2 linked regions of the Homo sapiens genome follow. Each later gene encodes a partner of the first gene's protein in a complex. Each region holds a gene or a part of one and is shown in the gene's direction. Other genes may lie near its edges.

What was found. The genes of interacting proteins can lie anywhere in the genome.
Region 2: the proteins of SEMA4D (region 1) and PLXNB1 are in contact, whole or in part, in a crystal structure (PDB 3OL2), measured with the Homo sapiens proteins. Residues at the interface, in NP_001358123.1 of Homo sapiens: Glu99, Lys100, Gly101, Phe158, Tyr179, Phe181, Leu182, Gly183, Ser184, Arg198, Tyr201, Ile203, Glu208, Val240, Leu264, Arg265, Thr266, Leu267, Gln268, Lys270, Thr347, Gln350, Ser351, His352, Thr353, Asp388, Gln392, Lys395; in NP_001123554.1 of Homo sapiens: Leu80, Pro81, Pro82, Glu87, Arg136, Pro137, Gly138, Asp139, Thr140, Tyr142, Gly178, Glu202, Lys205, Ala207, Gly209, Arg210, Ser212, Glu213, Arg235, Arg242, Asp359, Val360, Asn361, Ser362, Leu367, Pro368, Thr371, Tyr375, Ser379, Asp380.

What each region holds. Positions count from the first base shown.
Region 1 is NC_000009.12:89,495,107-89,502,814, reverse strand, and holds the start of SEMA4D (semaphorin-4D isoform 1 precursor), read left to right. Parts: upstream 1-4,701; 5' UTR 4,702-4,896; intron 4,897-5,312; exon of another isoform or gene 5,313-5,440; intron 5,441-7,158; exon of another isoform or gene 7,159-7,248; intron 7,249-7,708. UniProt on the Homo sapiens protein: Cell surface receptor for PLXNB1 and PLXNB2 that plays an important role in cell-cell signaling. Regulates GABAergic synapse development. Promotes the development of inhibitory synapses in a PLXNB1-dependent manner.
Region 2 is NC_000003.12:48,406,070-48,413,090, reverse strand, and holds part of PLXNB1 (plexin-B1 precursor), read left to right. Parts: coding exon 1-22; intron 23-131; coding exon 132-349; intron 350-470; coding exon 471-649; intron 650-786; coding exon 787-853; intron 854-1,081; coding exon 1,082-1,228; intron 1,229-2,054; coding exon 2,055-2,223; intron 2,224-2,532; coding exon 2,533-2,636; intron 2,637-2,707; coding exon of another isoform or gene 2,708-2,710; coding exon 2,711-2,795; intron 2,796-3,013; coding exon 3,014-3,186; intron 3,187-3,359; coding exon 3,360-3,520; intron 3,521-3,614; coding exon 3,615-3,762; intron 3,763-5,999; coding exon 6,000-6,064; intron 6,065-6,192; coding exon 6,193-6,268; intron 6,269-6,350; exon of another isoform or gene 6,351-6,523; intron 6,524-7,021. UniProt on the Homo sapiens protein: Receptor for SEMA4D. Plays a role in GABAergic synapse development. Mediates SEMA4A- and SEMA4D-dependent inhibitory synapse development. Plays a role in RHOA activation and subsequent changes of the actin cytoskeleton.

The sequences.
Region 1 (7,708 bases):
ATGACTTGGAAACTACAGCTATCAGATCTGCCGCCAGAGCATATTATTAAAAAAGAAGCAAGTAGATCACATTTTAAAGTATTTTGGTAGCTGGATTTCAGTATAATTCATTTCCTTTTGAATCCTGTATTTGACTTTATGCATTTAAACACATTACTCTGAAAAGAGTTCTGTAGACCTCACCACTCTGTGAAGTTCAAAATGTAGACCAGAGAAGAAAGAAAACTATCAACAAACAATTATAATGGAAGCTGGTGCAGGCACCAAGGAAGTGACGTGTAAGGTGACATTCGAGCTGAGGAGCAGGGTGGGGGATATTAGCTCTGCCCAGGGTGCATGGGTTTGTGTTGGAGGAAATGATGCCAGGGCAGAGCCTTGACACATAAGTGGGTGTCTGCCAGCCAGCCAGGGATGCGAAGAGGTCCATGGTCTGGCAGTTGGTGACAGCAGTCACCTTAAAGGTCAGAAAGGCATTGCTGGGGCAAGTTCACTTGCTGGGGCAAGTCTAATCCAGCAGACACCAGCACTGATTAGATCAATGGTCAGATGGGGCCACATCAGCATCCTGTACACTCCCCAGTATGACGAAGGATGGCTTGGTAAACCATTCTGCATGTTCAGTGATGTGGGAAGTGCTGCCATGAGTGTGTGCACCAAAAATGGATTACACCCCTTCACCAGATTTATCTAGCACTTAGTGGTTTGACAGTTGAACGCTGTGCAGGAGCACAGAGCAATGATAACATCTCAGCACGGCCTTCATTTCTATGCTTCTGCTGGTGTGACCCCACGTTTCCAAGTGTGGCTTTAACAAAAAGAGCTCTGTGGGTCCTGTGGGGGTCTCAGTGGCAGTAAGGACATATGAGGGTGCTAGAGGTGCCTGGGGATCTCAGAGCCTTCAAAATCCCTTTCGGCTTCCTTCATTGACATGTTCTAACAATCAGGGTGCCTGACAGAGACCGGTGTGGACTCTCTATTTTGGAGAGGCTGGCCAGGAAGGCCACACTCTTACCAGCCTTTTCTGGGGTGCGGGGAGGAACAGAGCTAGGAGTAGGAGTCACAGCATGGTCTTGGCAGCCACTGCATGGTAACAGTGGAGGTGTGGCTCACCCACGTCTCTGCAGAGTGTGGTCACATTCAAAGGACATCTCCCCGGACTTTTCTAGAAGCTGCTGGCAGGTCCCAGAGCCAACCTTCCCACAGTCCCTCAGAGGACCCCGTTTCTCCACTTGCTGTGCTGACTCTCTCTCTAAGCTTAGCCTGGACACTCTGCATGCCACTACAGGTGAGAGGCGGCAGGCCGACTCTTTCTGAAGACACCTCCTCCACTGCGTAAGGCTCCACACTGGGCGATCTGGAAACGGCTCCCAGCCCACTACGTGCCTGTTCCCTCCTGCACTGCAAAGTGGAAGCAGAGGATCCTCTCTCCTCATATCCACCTGGGCCGTGTTGGAAGCTGAGTATTATTTGTGCTGCCATACTTGAGTTTTTTTCTCATATGGGACTTAACTATTATCAATCCAGTTACTATGCTCATATGCATATAGATGGTGTCAACATTCTGGCTGGGAAATGCAGAGAAACTTTGCAAAGCATGGTCTCAGTATCCAAACACTTGGCATTTCTGGGGAAACTAGGAAATAGATTGGTTAATATGATCTTTGATATGCTTGAACTTAATATTGGAGGGGAAAGTAAGGGGGTGAGAGGTAAGGCAAGATTGGAGTTCATTTAGCTACTTTTATTTTTATTTTTTGAGACTGAGTTTTGCTCTGTCGCCCAAGCTGGAGTGCAGTGGTATATGATCTTGGCTCACTGCAACCTCCGCCTCCCGGGTTCAAGTGATTCTCCTGCCTCAGCCTCCTGAGTAGCTGGGATTACAGGTTTGTGCCACCATGCCCACCTAATTTTTGTATTTTTAGTAGAGACGGGGTTTCACCATGTTGGCAAGGCTGGTCTCGAACTCCTGACCTCAGGTGATCCGCCTGCCTCAGCCTCCCAAAGTGTTGGGATTACAGGCGTGAGCCACTGCACCCAGCCTGCTACTTTTATATCTATGTTTGAAATGTCCCACGACAGAGTGTGAAACAAGAATAAAAAGGCAAGCTTGGTCACTTTGGGAGACATAGGCAATCATGCTGAGAGAAGGGAACAGGGAAGAAGGTCAGAGAGGAGGGAAGAGGAAGACCTAATAATGGCATCCAAGTCCCGGTTCTAATGGTACTTGGGGCATCTTTGGATGCAAGTGAGCCAATAGTATGGGCTGAAGTTCTATCACTTACAACTAAGAGTCCTGTCTCCTTCATGAATGCAATAAACATGTTTGGGGGCAATTTTATATAAGCACGGTGCAAAGAAGCCCTTGTGTTCGCAGCCTGGGCATTGCGGAAAGCTTTTTGGAGTTTTTACTGAATTCTCTCATGTTCTTCTGTATGCATTAGGAAACAGGCTAGAGAGGACAGTATTCTGGAAGGTCATGATGCCAGAAGTGTGGGCCCCAGGACAGCCATGCAAAGTCTCTTCTTTGCCCTGGGCTGCCCTCTATTAGATTCTGAGCATGTGGGTCTAAAAGCCAGGAGAGAATTCAGCAGTTGTTGAGAAGCATACCCCTCTGCTGCTGGTCCCCTCCCTGCAGTGTGTTCCCAAGGTGGCCCCAGGCCTGTCTAGACGCTGGCTGTGAAGGGCACGCTCCTGTAGGGGCAGCCGGCTCTTCCACAGTGAGGTCTGTCAGAAAGCGCCCACGATAGGCAGGAATCCACTTTCTCATCTAATTTCCACCCATCTGTCCTCATTCTGCCCTTCATAACACCACAGAGTAATCCTTCTTCCCGGGACAGTTTTGCACATATTGGGGTTCTTCTGTCTTGTGCTCCACACATTGATTTTCTAGGCTGAAGACTCCCGGTGGGTCAACTCCCCTCCCACGGGATACTGCTGGCTGCCTTAGACACCAAGCAAGGGCATGGTATTCTAGATGTGTCTGACTAGTGAGGAATAAAAGAGAGTCCCCCCACCCCACCCCAATCAGTGCAATGCTTGCATGTGTAGATCCTAAGCGTGCATCCCTCCTTGGGTATAGAATGCTGTTAAACCAGTTCTGTCCTAATCCGTTCCCATTATGTTTCAATCCAAATGGGATGTGGAACATGGATTCATGGACCCCTACAATTGGAAAAGAGCTTGGAAAAGACTTCTCTAGTTTTTCCTGTAATAGTCACCAGCACTGAACCCGAGCACACGGTGCAGTGGGCTTTACCTGCCATTCTCTCTCCGTGCTCCCCAAACCCTCCAGGACGACCACACTGTCCTCATGTTGCAGGGTACAGAGGTTTGCTGAGGCCTGAGGTTATTTGGAAACTGCAGAGCTGTGAGTCAAGGGAGTCTATCAGATTCCAGGTCTGGATTCTTCAGCAAGAGGGTGGTGGCTGCCATGCCGTAGAGGGAGGAGGGGGTGCGTGCTCCACCCCACCCTGCTTGACACCAGCTTTGCCATCTTAGCCTTTGCTGGGCCGAAGCCCTATTCTCAGAGCTCCGGCACTGAACCACAGAAACCACAGGAGGCCCTAGAACGGAACTCTGAGACTGTTGGGCCTTTAACTCTGTGACTGTTGGGCCTGGGACTGGCTTCATTTGTAAACTCTGGCTCTCAGAGCCAGTGCTCAGCAGGAAAACAGCCTCAGGGCCCCTGCCCCTCAACAGCAGTCTGTAGTCCAGGGAGGTATCACCTGGCCTGGAGAGGGGCTCCCCAACTCCTCACATTTAGGGGAAATCTTAGCTGGTTCCGTAAGAAACTGTGTCCCCTTCTCAGGACTGTGTTCCTCAATAGGCCTCCCAGCCTGGCCAGTCACTGTGCGAGCCCTGTCACCTCTCCTGGGGGCAGAGGGAAGAGGTCTGGATGGAGCAGCACCATCTCTGAGGGCCCCCAGATCCCCAAACCCATGGGCTAGTCACAAACAAGTCTCACCAGCAGCCTCACAGGAGGACCATTTGCCATACAGAGTGGAAAATGATGAACGTTTGGCAAAAGGCTAGCACGGGGGTTCAGGGAAACCAAGACTCCAGGTGGTGCCAGCCCCTCCCCTGGGGAATGGGAGCAGCCTGGTGTGAAATATTCTTGCCCAAAGTCAGCAGCCAAGTGTTCTGGGTGCCACGTGCCTCACGCACACTGCAGGTCAGGTTCTCAGAAGAGCTGGCCCAGGGTCTGGGGGTGAAAAAAAACTGGGGGATTTGGGGGAGGCCTGGAAAGGGTGGGGTTCATCCAGGACCCCAGAAGGGGCAAGCTTGTCTATTGAGAGCTGGTGAGGAAGAGGGTGACAGGGCACCTCTTGGTCCTGGGAACGGGTGCTTGACTCAGCAGAGACCAACCCAGGGCTGAGGGACAACCCTCTGGGCCTGGCGGGGAGGCAAGAGAGATGGGAGGTGAGGAGGAAGGAGTGGGGAGCAAAAGTGGGGAGAAGGGGAGAGAGGTGGAAGAGTGTTGCGAAGGTGAAGAAAGAGGAGGAAAAAGAGAAGGGAGGAAAAGAAAGGTTGGGGGAGGGAAAGGAGGGAGGTGAGCAGGGGCGAGGAGGAGGGAGGAGGAAGGAGGAAGAAAGGGGCGGGGCCATAGGAGGGAAGAGAAGAAGGGGGAGAGGAAGGGGAAGGGAAAGGGGAGGAGGCGGGAAGGGAGGGGGAGCGGAGGAGGGGCCTGCGCGCCCGCCCCGCGCACTCCGTCCCCGCGCCGGCCTCAGCGCTCTCGCGCGCCGCAGCATCCCAGCCGCCGCTGCCGCCGCCGGGCCTCCCCGCCACCCCCTCCCCGGCCCGGCCGCCTCCCGCCGCTGCCGCCGCCGCCGCCGCCGCCATTCCTGGCGCCCGAACTCGCCCGGCCGGGAGCCGCCGCGGGCAGGACGCGCGCTGCAGGTAAGCGGCCGGGCTGGCGCGGGAGGGAGGGCGCGCGGGGCCGGGCAGGTGCGCTGGGGGCGGCCTGGACCCTCCGCGGAGCCCCCACTCCACACCCCTAGGCTCCTCACCGGACCCTCGGGGCCCTCCCCGAACCCCTGCAGGAGCCTCCTTCTGGGATCCCCGGACCCCTGGACTCCTTCCTGGATCCCCCCGGGGCCCCTCCTGGGACGCCTCCCAGAGACACCTACCCGGACCCCTCCGACCCCCTGGACCTCTCTGCTATCCCTCCCCGGCCTTCTCCCCTTCCCGGTTGCCTCCCCAGTCCCTGCGCGCAGGTGGCTCCTCTGGGCGCGGGGGAGCGGGGGCGCGCTGCATACCCGGGCCAGGGAGGGGGCGGTGCGCTCGGCCAGGCCCCGTCGCGCCCCGGCCCGCCCAGTCCGGCCCCGCCAGGTCAGGCCCCACTCCGGCCAGCCGGGCTCTGGCCGGGCCCCCGCGGGCTTCTATTTTGGTCGCGGAGGCCGCGGACCCTGTGCACTGGACCCGGCGCCGCGCACTCAGACAGGTGGGGCAGGTTGGGCCGCAGTGGTCAGGTCGCCGCCTTGGCAGTGAGTGCTGCAGGCCTCGGTTTCCTTTCGGGTTTTGGTTGCATTATTCTAGAACAGCCCAGGAGAACCACAAGCCTTAGCTTGGGCTGCACCTGTTGCAGCCGCCTAGTGAGCTGCAAGGGGCTGGCTCTACTGGGGTTATGCCAGTAAAAACGTGTAAAGGAGAGTTGAACTCGTGGTTGTCCTCTATTTTCTGGCTTAGTATTTTGGGGGGTAGGTGGGAGAGTGGGTGAATGGGAGTCTGTAAGTGGGCAGTTTGCGTCAAATGAGGCCTGGTGTCGAGGGCTGGGTCCTGCTTTCCGGAAGGTTTTCCACATGAAGTTGCTTTGCTTTTGTTTTGAAAACCTCACTCTGTGTTGAGCACATCCCAGGCTCGTGGGTGGCCAGGCCCCCGAAGGCCAAGCTGGACGTGGGGCCTGGGGCCAAGCATCTCACCCTGCTGTTCTGAGTCTTTTCAAATCCACCAGGCGCCACGGAACGGAAGTTTCCTTTCCTGGGGGTGACGTGACACCAGTGGCCTGTCACCTCATATGTGTCCTAGGCCTGGGGCCTGCCTGCTGGCTGCCCAGGCGAGGTTATTTGGGAATGTTTACTGTGTCCCAGAAACAGGCAGCTCTGGCCAGTGCAGGGGCAGGATTCTGGTAGAGATGATAATGCCCTGATTGTCATTTTGACAGTTGGTGTCTGCGTATATCATGTCTTGGTAGTCGTCAGCCAGAAGAAGAAAGCAGGCGGGCTCAGCATACCCACCAGGGAGGCTGGGGTGGGAAGATGAGGGATGCACTGGCCTGTTTCTGTGAGCAAAGACTGCCCTCCCATAAGGCCAGACCTTCAGACTGAGAAGAGTGTACGTGGTACACTCAGCGAGTCAAACAAAGAAATAGAAACACATCACTGGTGCCAGGAGCAGCCCTGGGGTCCCAGGAGGGTGGGCCGCTTAGGAGTTGGTAGACGGTGGAACTCAGTGGCTGTATTTCAGAGTGCAGACAGGCAAAAGGCCACCGTGGGGATGCAGAGCCCCAGCTGCCATGCCAGCCCAAGGTCTTGCAGCACAGCACAAGGGAGGGACTCCATGGGAGGGGGCCCACCTCCTGAGAAGCACACCCAGAGTCTGTTGAAAATGCAGCCTTGCACAGACCCCCCTGAGTGCCTGGGGTCCTGGGCTGAGGTTTAGAGTGCAAGACCAGCGACCATGTTGCATTTGATATCCAGTGGGTCTGGGGCCAGGGAGATGTCCTTGGTGACATCATCCACTTGTGGACAGTCCTCTCCATGTGGACCGCTGGAGGCAGATGTTACCTAGAGCCGCTTTCCCCACACCAAGCGGGTGTGTCTAGGCCAAAGCTTGGGAGTGCACGCTAATGGCCAGCTTTGACTGAGGAGGGAGGGAACGTCCGCTGCTGACAGCACAACAGCAAAATCAATAATGCATTGCAAAGATCAATGGTTTTCTCTATCTTCTGTGCTTCTGCATTGAGGCTGTTCAGGCTTCTGCCTCTCTTGGTTCCATTTCTGTTGGGGAGGGAGGGATGGGCGGGTCCAGGAGGGTGGTTGCAGATTCTCCTCCTGACCCCTGGAGCCAGAGCTCCAGGGTTGGAGCTAGGACCCATGGGGATGAAACTTGCCACGTGAAAATATAGAAATAAACGTGCCGTCGGCTGATTGTCGAGCCTAGTTGCTGAGAGAAAGGCTGCTGCCTGCTGTTCCCAACCAGGGCAGTTATTTCTTCTTTGAACTTGGACAATTCCAGGAAGAAGACTAGAAGGTGAGAAGGGAGGTGGCAGAGGCAGCTGGGGTGGGTCCTCTCTTCCCTGGGCCAGGGTCCGCCCTGGGCTTGGCAGGTGCAGTTCCTCAGCCCTGCCCATTGCATCCCCATCCCCATCACCATTGCCGTCCAGGGTCCAGGGCTGCTGGAGGAGATAGCTGCTGATTCAGTCAGGTGGAGAGGGTGTGCCAGGGCCTTCCCTGGAAGCTGGGTGGTGTTTTAGGTGCACTAGTTAAGGCGATCCTTGGGATAAGCAAATTGCTTTGCTGCTTGTGGGTCACTTTTCAGCTTCTGTGACCCTCCCTGAGCGAATTTGCCTTTAGCTGGGGGTGTCACAGCAGGGGCCCCAGCTTTCTACTGCCTTGCTGCTTCCCCTGGGGCATCAGCAGCCGCCTTCCCACAGCACCTGTGCAAACCTCAGTGGGGGGCAGGCAGGGTCCTGTTATTTGGTCCAGAAGTT
Region 2 (7,021 bases), on another chromosome or scaffold:
CGCTGCAAGAAGGAATTCACAGGTGTGGCTGAGAGAATGGGCCCCGCCCTCCAGAACTCTGCCCAAACCCACTCCCATCACACGGGATTGGTGCTTAACAGGTGCTTAACCTGGCCTCTTCTGCTTAACAGACCTCATGACTGAGATGACCGATCTCACCAGTGACCTCCTGGGCAGCGGCATCCCCTTCCTCGACTACAAGGTGTATGCGGAGAGGATCTTCTTCCCTGGGCACCGCGAGTCGCCCTTGCACCGGGACCTGGGTGTGCCTGAGAGCAGACGGCCCACTGTGGAGCAAGGGCTGGGGCAGCTCTCTAACCTGCTCAACAGCAAGCTCTTCCTCACCAAGGTACCCCCAGCTGCATCTTCCTGGCCTGCCCCTGGCCCTGCCCCTTCTCCAGGGCATGGTTTCTGAGCCCGCCCCTCTGTCCCCCTAAACCCCTTTTCCCATCCCTTCTCTTTGGCTGCAGTTCATCCACACGCTGGAGAGCCAGCGCACCTTTTCAGCTCGGGACCGTGCCTACGTGGCATCTCTGCTCACCGTGGCACTGCATGGGAAGCTTGAGTATTTCACTGACATCCTCCGCACTCTGCTCAGTGACCTGGTTGCCCAGTATGTGGCCAAGAACCCCAAGCTGATGCTGCGCAGGTCTGTGTGGCTGTTGGGGCTGGGTGGGCCCTGGACAGCTGGAGCTGGGGTGGGGCCTCGGGCTGGGGGGTCTGCAGGATAGAGAGGCCCGCAGCCCCACCTGCTGACCCTGGCACTCCCCTTTCCCATCATCTCAGGACAGAGACTGTGGTGGAGAAGCTGCTCACCAACTGGATGTCCATCTGTCTGTATACCTTCGTGAGGGTGAGGGGGCAGAGGTGGACAGGGCTCCTGTCCAGGGAGGGTCAGGCCCTCCAAACTTCTAAGCCCTCAGCCACCATGCAGCTCGGACACTTGTGCCAGAGCAGAGACTCCTGCTCAGCCTGTCCTCAGTCCCCTTAAGCCCATGTCCTGTCCCCTTCCCCAGTGTGCGTCATGTCCCATACACCTCTGCCACCTGCTGGGGGGCCCTAACTGCCTGTGCTCTCCTAGGACTCCGTAGGGGAGCCTCTGTACATGCTCTTTCGAGGGATTAAGCACCAAGTGGATAAGGGGCCAGTGGACAGTGTGACAGGCAAGGCCAAATACACCTTGAACGACAACCGCCTGCTCAGAGAGGATGTGGAGTACCGTCCCCTGGTGAGGGTGTGCAAGTGTGTGGCCTGCAGTCTGAGTGCGGTGAGGGCGAGGGTGGAGAGTGTGTGGGTGTGTGGGGTCTGGACACCAGCTTCTGATGTGGTACCTGGATGTAGAGCTGGGTTGACCTCTGGCTGGCTCCTGGAGAGAGCCCATCAGACTAGCTTAGCAGGATAGCAGTTTAGGGCAGACTTTGATGATAAGGCCTCTATGTGCCCCAGGCTAGGGATGGAACTAGGGTAGCCACAACCAGGGTTTGGGAGAAGCCAGCCCTACCTTAGACCATGGGCTTGAGCTGTGTCAGGGCCTGACCCTGTCTGCCTGGCCCTCCTACCAGGAATGCGGCCTTGCCCACCAAGCCAGCCTCACTCTGGCAGGCACTTCTCTCTGGGTTTGCTTTCCCCTTAGTTACGCACAAGGGTTCCTGTGGGAAACCCCCATTCAGGCCTGCTGAACCCCTCCCCTGTCGGATAGGTGGGAATATTTGCTCCCGATGGTGGGAATGCAGGCTTCCCGAAACTCCGTCAGCCTGACCCATTCAGCCAGGAACCTGGGGATCTGAGTGATGAGGGACTTGTGCTCACTCATTTTTTTCTGCCATTTACCCCATAGTGGTTTACAAGTGCACTGCGCTAGGTGCTGGGGTCACAATGGGGAGGAAGCTGCTGTCCCTGGGGAAGGCAGGCAGGTGAAGAGACGAGAATTAGGGATTGTGTGGTGCGTGGGGATTGGAGGCAGCAGTTTCTCATGAGTTGTCTCTGCCCTTGGCCTGTGTCTTGGTCATCCTGAGTGCACATGAACCCTGATGGCTCCTGTGTGTCCTGCACAGACCTTGAATGCACTATTGGCTGTGGGGCCTGGGGCAGGAGAGGCCCAGGGCGTGCCCGTGAAGGTCCTAGACTGTGACACCATCTCCCAGGCAAAGGAGAAGATGCTGGACCAGCTTTATAAAGGAGTGCCTCTCACCCAGCGGCCAGACCCTCGCACCCTTGATGTTGGTGAGGGCGTGGAGAGCCCCTGGGGACCTGAGCCACTGTTGGGCCTGGGCTGGCCCCGGACCAACTCTGCAGGGACAACTCATCACTCAGGGTGGGGAGGATGCTGGGAGGCAGGCAGAAGCTGGCTTTGGAACATCTTTCTTGGACAGCCTCTCATCTGGGGAGGGGGTCCCTGCTCTTGGTCTTTGGAGAGGTTGAGTAAGGCTGCCCCATGATGGAGGGGCTGGTGTCCCTGTGGAGGAGGAGATGGGCTCCACTATGGGAAGGGTATCTTCCAGCCCTGCACCCAGTTCTGCCTTGCCCTTGCAGAGTGGCGGTCTGGGGTGGCCGGGCACCTCATTCTTTCTGACGAGGATGTCACTTCTGAGGTCCAGGGTCTGTGGAGGCGCCTGAACACACTGCAGCATTACAAGGTAGGAGGAGTGGGAGCTGGAGGAGGGCATGGTGGGGTGGGACTGGTGGAGGGATCACCAGCTGTGCTCAGCAGGTCCCAGATGGAGCAACTGTGGCCCTCGTCCCCTGCCTCACCAAGCATGTGCTCCGGGAAAACCAGGATTATGTCCCTGGAGAGCGTGAGTACCGCTCCCATCACGGTCCTCTGCCCCTGCTGTGCCCAGCCCGGAGTCATGGGGAAGGTCCTCTGGGCCTCAGGGCAGGCTTGTGCCTATTTCCATTCGGCCCAGGAAATCCCTCAACCAGGTGCCCCCACCCCTGGGAGAGCTGGCAAGAAACAGGGGGCCTGGGGAGGTGGCACCTGGGGAGGGGTGACAGCTGTGGGCTCTTGGCACAGGGACCCCAATGCTGGAGGATGTAGATGAGGGGGGCATCCGGCCCTGGCACCTGGTGAAGCCAAGTGATGAGCCGGAGCCGCCCAGGCCTCGGAGGGGCAGCCTTCGGGGCGGGGAGCGTGAGCGCGCCAAGGCCATCCCTGAGATCTACCTGACCCGCCTGCTGTCCATGAAGGTGGGGTGGGGCTGCCAAGGTAGTGGGGCCTGGGCTGAGAGGGAGCATGGCCACTCGTGGGATTTGGGGGTGGTGTGGGGCTCGTGCAGGCACAGTGCCGGGGGGTGTCTGAGGCTGGGCTGCTGCTGAGGGCCCTTTGCTGACCACACCTCTCTGCTTCTTCCTTCCCACAGGGCACCCTGCAGAAGTTCGTGGATGACCTGTTCCAGGTGATTCTCAGCACCAGCCGCCCCGTGCCGCTCGCTGTGAAGTACTTCTTTGACCTGCTGGATGAGCAGGCCCAGCAGCATGGCATCTCCGACCAGGACACCATCCACATCTGGAAGACCAACAGGTGGGGTGGAGCTGGGTGGGCTCTAGGTGTGTGTGGGGGGTCTTCTCTTCTGCCTCCCCAGCACATTCATCGGCCATGCCTGCCCCACCCGCAGCTTGCCTCTGAGGTTCTGGATCAATATAATAAAAAACCCGCAGTTTGTGTTCGACGTGCAAACATCTGATAACATGGATGCGGTGCTCCTTGTCATTGCACAGACCTTCATGGACGCCTGCACCCTGGCCGACCACAAGCTGGGCCGGGTGAGCGAGTCTGGGATGGACACGGGGGGATGGGTGAGGGTGGACAGTGCTGTGTGTGCACTCAGATTCCAGGCTTTTCTGAGAACTTCAAGGAGGGCTTAGGGGAGACCTCTGACCTCCCAAGCCAAGGCTTCATCCCGGGGCCACCTCAGTTTTAAGGGATGAGCAAGAGGAGGGGACACTGTGTGCCAATTCACAGGTGAAGTTGTGTGCAGCAAGTACAGCCTGGTGTGGCTGGGGCATAGAATGCTGGCCAGGCGTGGCAGTAGGCCAGGGCCAGTTGGTCAGGACTCACTCCTGGGGCAGTGGGAGCCACAGAAGGTCTGGGAACAGGGAAGTTATGTGACCAGACCTGAGAGTTTGGTGGAACATTGTGGCTGCTGTGCATGGATGAGCTGAGTGAGGGAGTCCCAAGAGGGCGCTGTGCTGTCCTGACAAGCAGTGGCTGGGTTCAAGCCGGGTGGGAGGGTGCAGGGCAGGCAAAAGCTGAAGGTTGGATGTGGGGGATGAGGAAGAAGGAGGGGAGTCACACATGATCCCTGGGCCTCTGGCTGTGGTAAGCTTAGACTTGGAGAAGGTGAGTCTGGTGTTTGTGGGGTTTCCAGATAGAGACATGGATTGTTCAATCCCAGAGCAGCTCTGGGCTGCTGATTGGGTTTAATTCCTTAGGGTGGTGGAGGTGTCTGCCTGCCAGTAGGGAAGTAGGGAAGAGAGTTCATGGAGTGTCACAGTTTGAGGGATGTGTGAGGAGGGGAGCTGGGAAGCACAGGAGACTGAGTAGTTGGAGCCGTCCGGGAGCACAGAGGTTGGGAGTCTATTGTCATAGCAGTCAAAGCCGAGAGTCCCCTGACATATGAGGTCCCCAAGGTGTCTGCTCAAGCACCCAGTGGGCAGGGCCCTCGTGTGACTCTGCAGGTCCATGAGTGGGGCTCTGCTTAGCCTAGACCCCCAGGTCTCAGTTGGCTTGGGACTTCTTGAGAGATACATCCCTACACCTCTGGGAAAAATCAAAATTAGCTTGGCACGGTGGCTCACACCTAGAATCCCAGCACTTTGGGAGGCTGAGGTGGGCAGATCGCCTGAGGAGCTCAGGAGTTTGAGACCAGCCTGGGCAACATGGCAAAACCCTGTCTCTACAAAAAATACAAAAATTAGCCAGGAGTGGTGGTGTGTGCCTGTGGTCCCAGCTACTAGGGAGGCTGAGGTGGGAGGATGGCTTGAGCCTGGGAGGTTGAAGCTGCAGTGAGCCATGACTACTCTGTTCACTGCACTTCAGCCTGGGTAACAGAGCGAGACCCTGTCTGAAAACAAAAACAAAAACGGAAAGTTCTGTCCAAAATTGTAGCACTGTCTTTTGGGAGCCATTTTTGTTCCACATGCTGTCATCATGCCTATAATGAGCTAAGAATCAAAGGGCCACACCAGGACCCGCAGGGCCACCTCCAGGGTAGACCCTATGTGGTGGCTGGGATTTTTGCCAGATCCTTCCAGTACCTCCCCTTCCCAGCAGAACAGCAAATGGTTCCTGGGTAGCTCAGGAGTAGTCCGAACAAAGAATGCCAAGGGTTCCCCCATGGGGAGTTGTCAAGAAGGCGCGAATCCTGACTCAGGTTGACAGAGGAGCTGGCCTTGGATCCCTGCTCATGGGGGACAGTGCCACCTCGAGATATTCTCACCTTCCCAGCAGCTCTAGGATGAGGAGAGGTCCTGAGAATAGAAGTATGCTGCCCAGAGCCCATGGCTGCTGGGACTTGAACCCAGTTCAGTTGTAGACGCTGTGTCTAGGTGTGTTAAAGTGGTGGAAACTGGACAGACCTGCTTCAAATCCTAGCTCAGCCACTGGGGAGAGAGGTGGTCTGTGGCCGCTTAGGTAATGTTCTGGGTCTGTTTGCTCATTTTTAAAATGATGACCCTGGGAGTGAACAGCATGCGTCCTGCCCTACGTACCGGGCTCTTGCTGGATCTAGATGGTGGCATGTGGAGCTGAGAAATGATTTCCGATGACATCAGAGACTGGACATTGGTGGAAGGGAGGGAGCAGCAGAGGCTCCTGCGGAAGGAAGTAGGCGAGGGTGACCACCTGTCCTGGTTTTCCGGGACTCAGGGGCTTCCTGGGATGTGAGACTTTTCCTTTTCAAAACTGAAGCAGTACTGGGAAACCCAGGACACTTGATCACTCGAACAGGGACCCTCATCCTTCCTTCCTTCCTCTTTTGCTGTCCTCCTGCTATGTCCAGGACTCCCCGATCAACAAACTTCTGTATGCACGGGACATTCCCCGGTACAAGCGGATGGTGGAAAGGTACTGGAGGGCACGGTGGGTAGAGGTTGGAGGGCGTGTGCAGCTGAGGCTTGGGGGGTGGGCTCTGGTTGGGAGCAGGGGAGTGGGCTTGTTTACCCAGCAGCTGCTGTGCCCTGGCTCTCTGGCAGGTACTATGCAGACATCAGACAGACTGTCCCAGCCAGCGACCAAGAGATGAACTCTGTCCTGGCTGAACTGTCCTGGGTAAGGCCTCCCTCTGCTTCTTGGGTTGGGCATAGGCCTCCTGCCACAACGGTCCTTCCCCCTTCACACTGCCCCTTTGCAGGGAAGCCCTTGGGAACCTCAGCAGCCCTGTGAGCTGGTTGGGGCAGGAAACATAAATGCAGAATGTTCCAACTGCCACTGAAAGACCAGGGCTCCCACCATCTCATCACAGAGCAAGCAGGGGTCTTGTCCTGGCAGCTGCCATGTACCCTGATTCAGCCAGGCTCTTGCAAGGTAGCTGGGATTCAGCCCCAGGCCTGCCTGGGTCTGCCTGCATGCGTCTTCCCACTGCTGTGCTTCCCTTGGTGGCACAGGTGTCCCCTTCACCTCTCCCATTCCTGAAACCGCCCTAAAATGTAACTCCAGGGAGTTTATGAACAATGTTTCTGAAATGTTGATGATGACAACCACAACACTAATAGCAGATATAATTTTGGGGTGTTGTGTGTGAAGCCCTTCATGGGGTGCTTTGATTGTCTTATTTGATCCTCACAAGAACTCCACAAGCTAGGTGACACCAATTCCATCGTCCAGGTGAGGAAGTTGAGGCTCAGAGATGTCCCCATGGAGGGGCCTGAGAGTGACCTCAGGAAATACTTGAGTTAGGCCAGAGCAGAATCATGCTGGGCTGTCAGCCTGCAAGTGGCATCTGTGCCACTTGGCTCTGGAGTCATCTGGGTGGCAGAGGGTCTGGGCTAGAACCTCAAGGGGGTGAGAGAGGCAGGGCTTCAG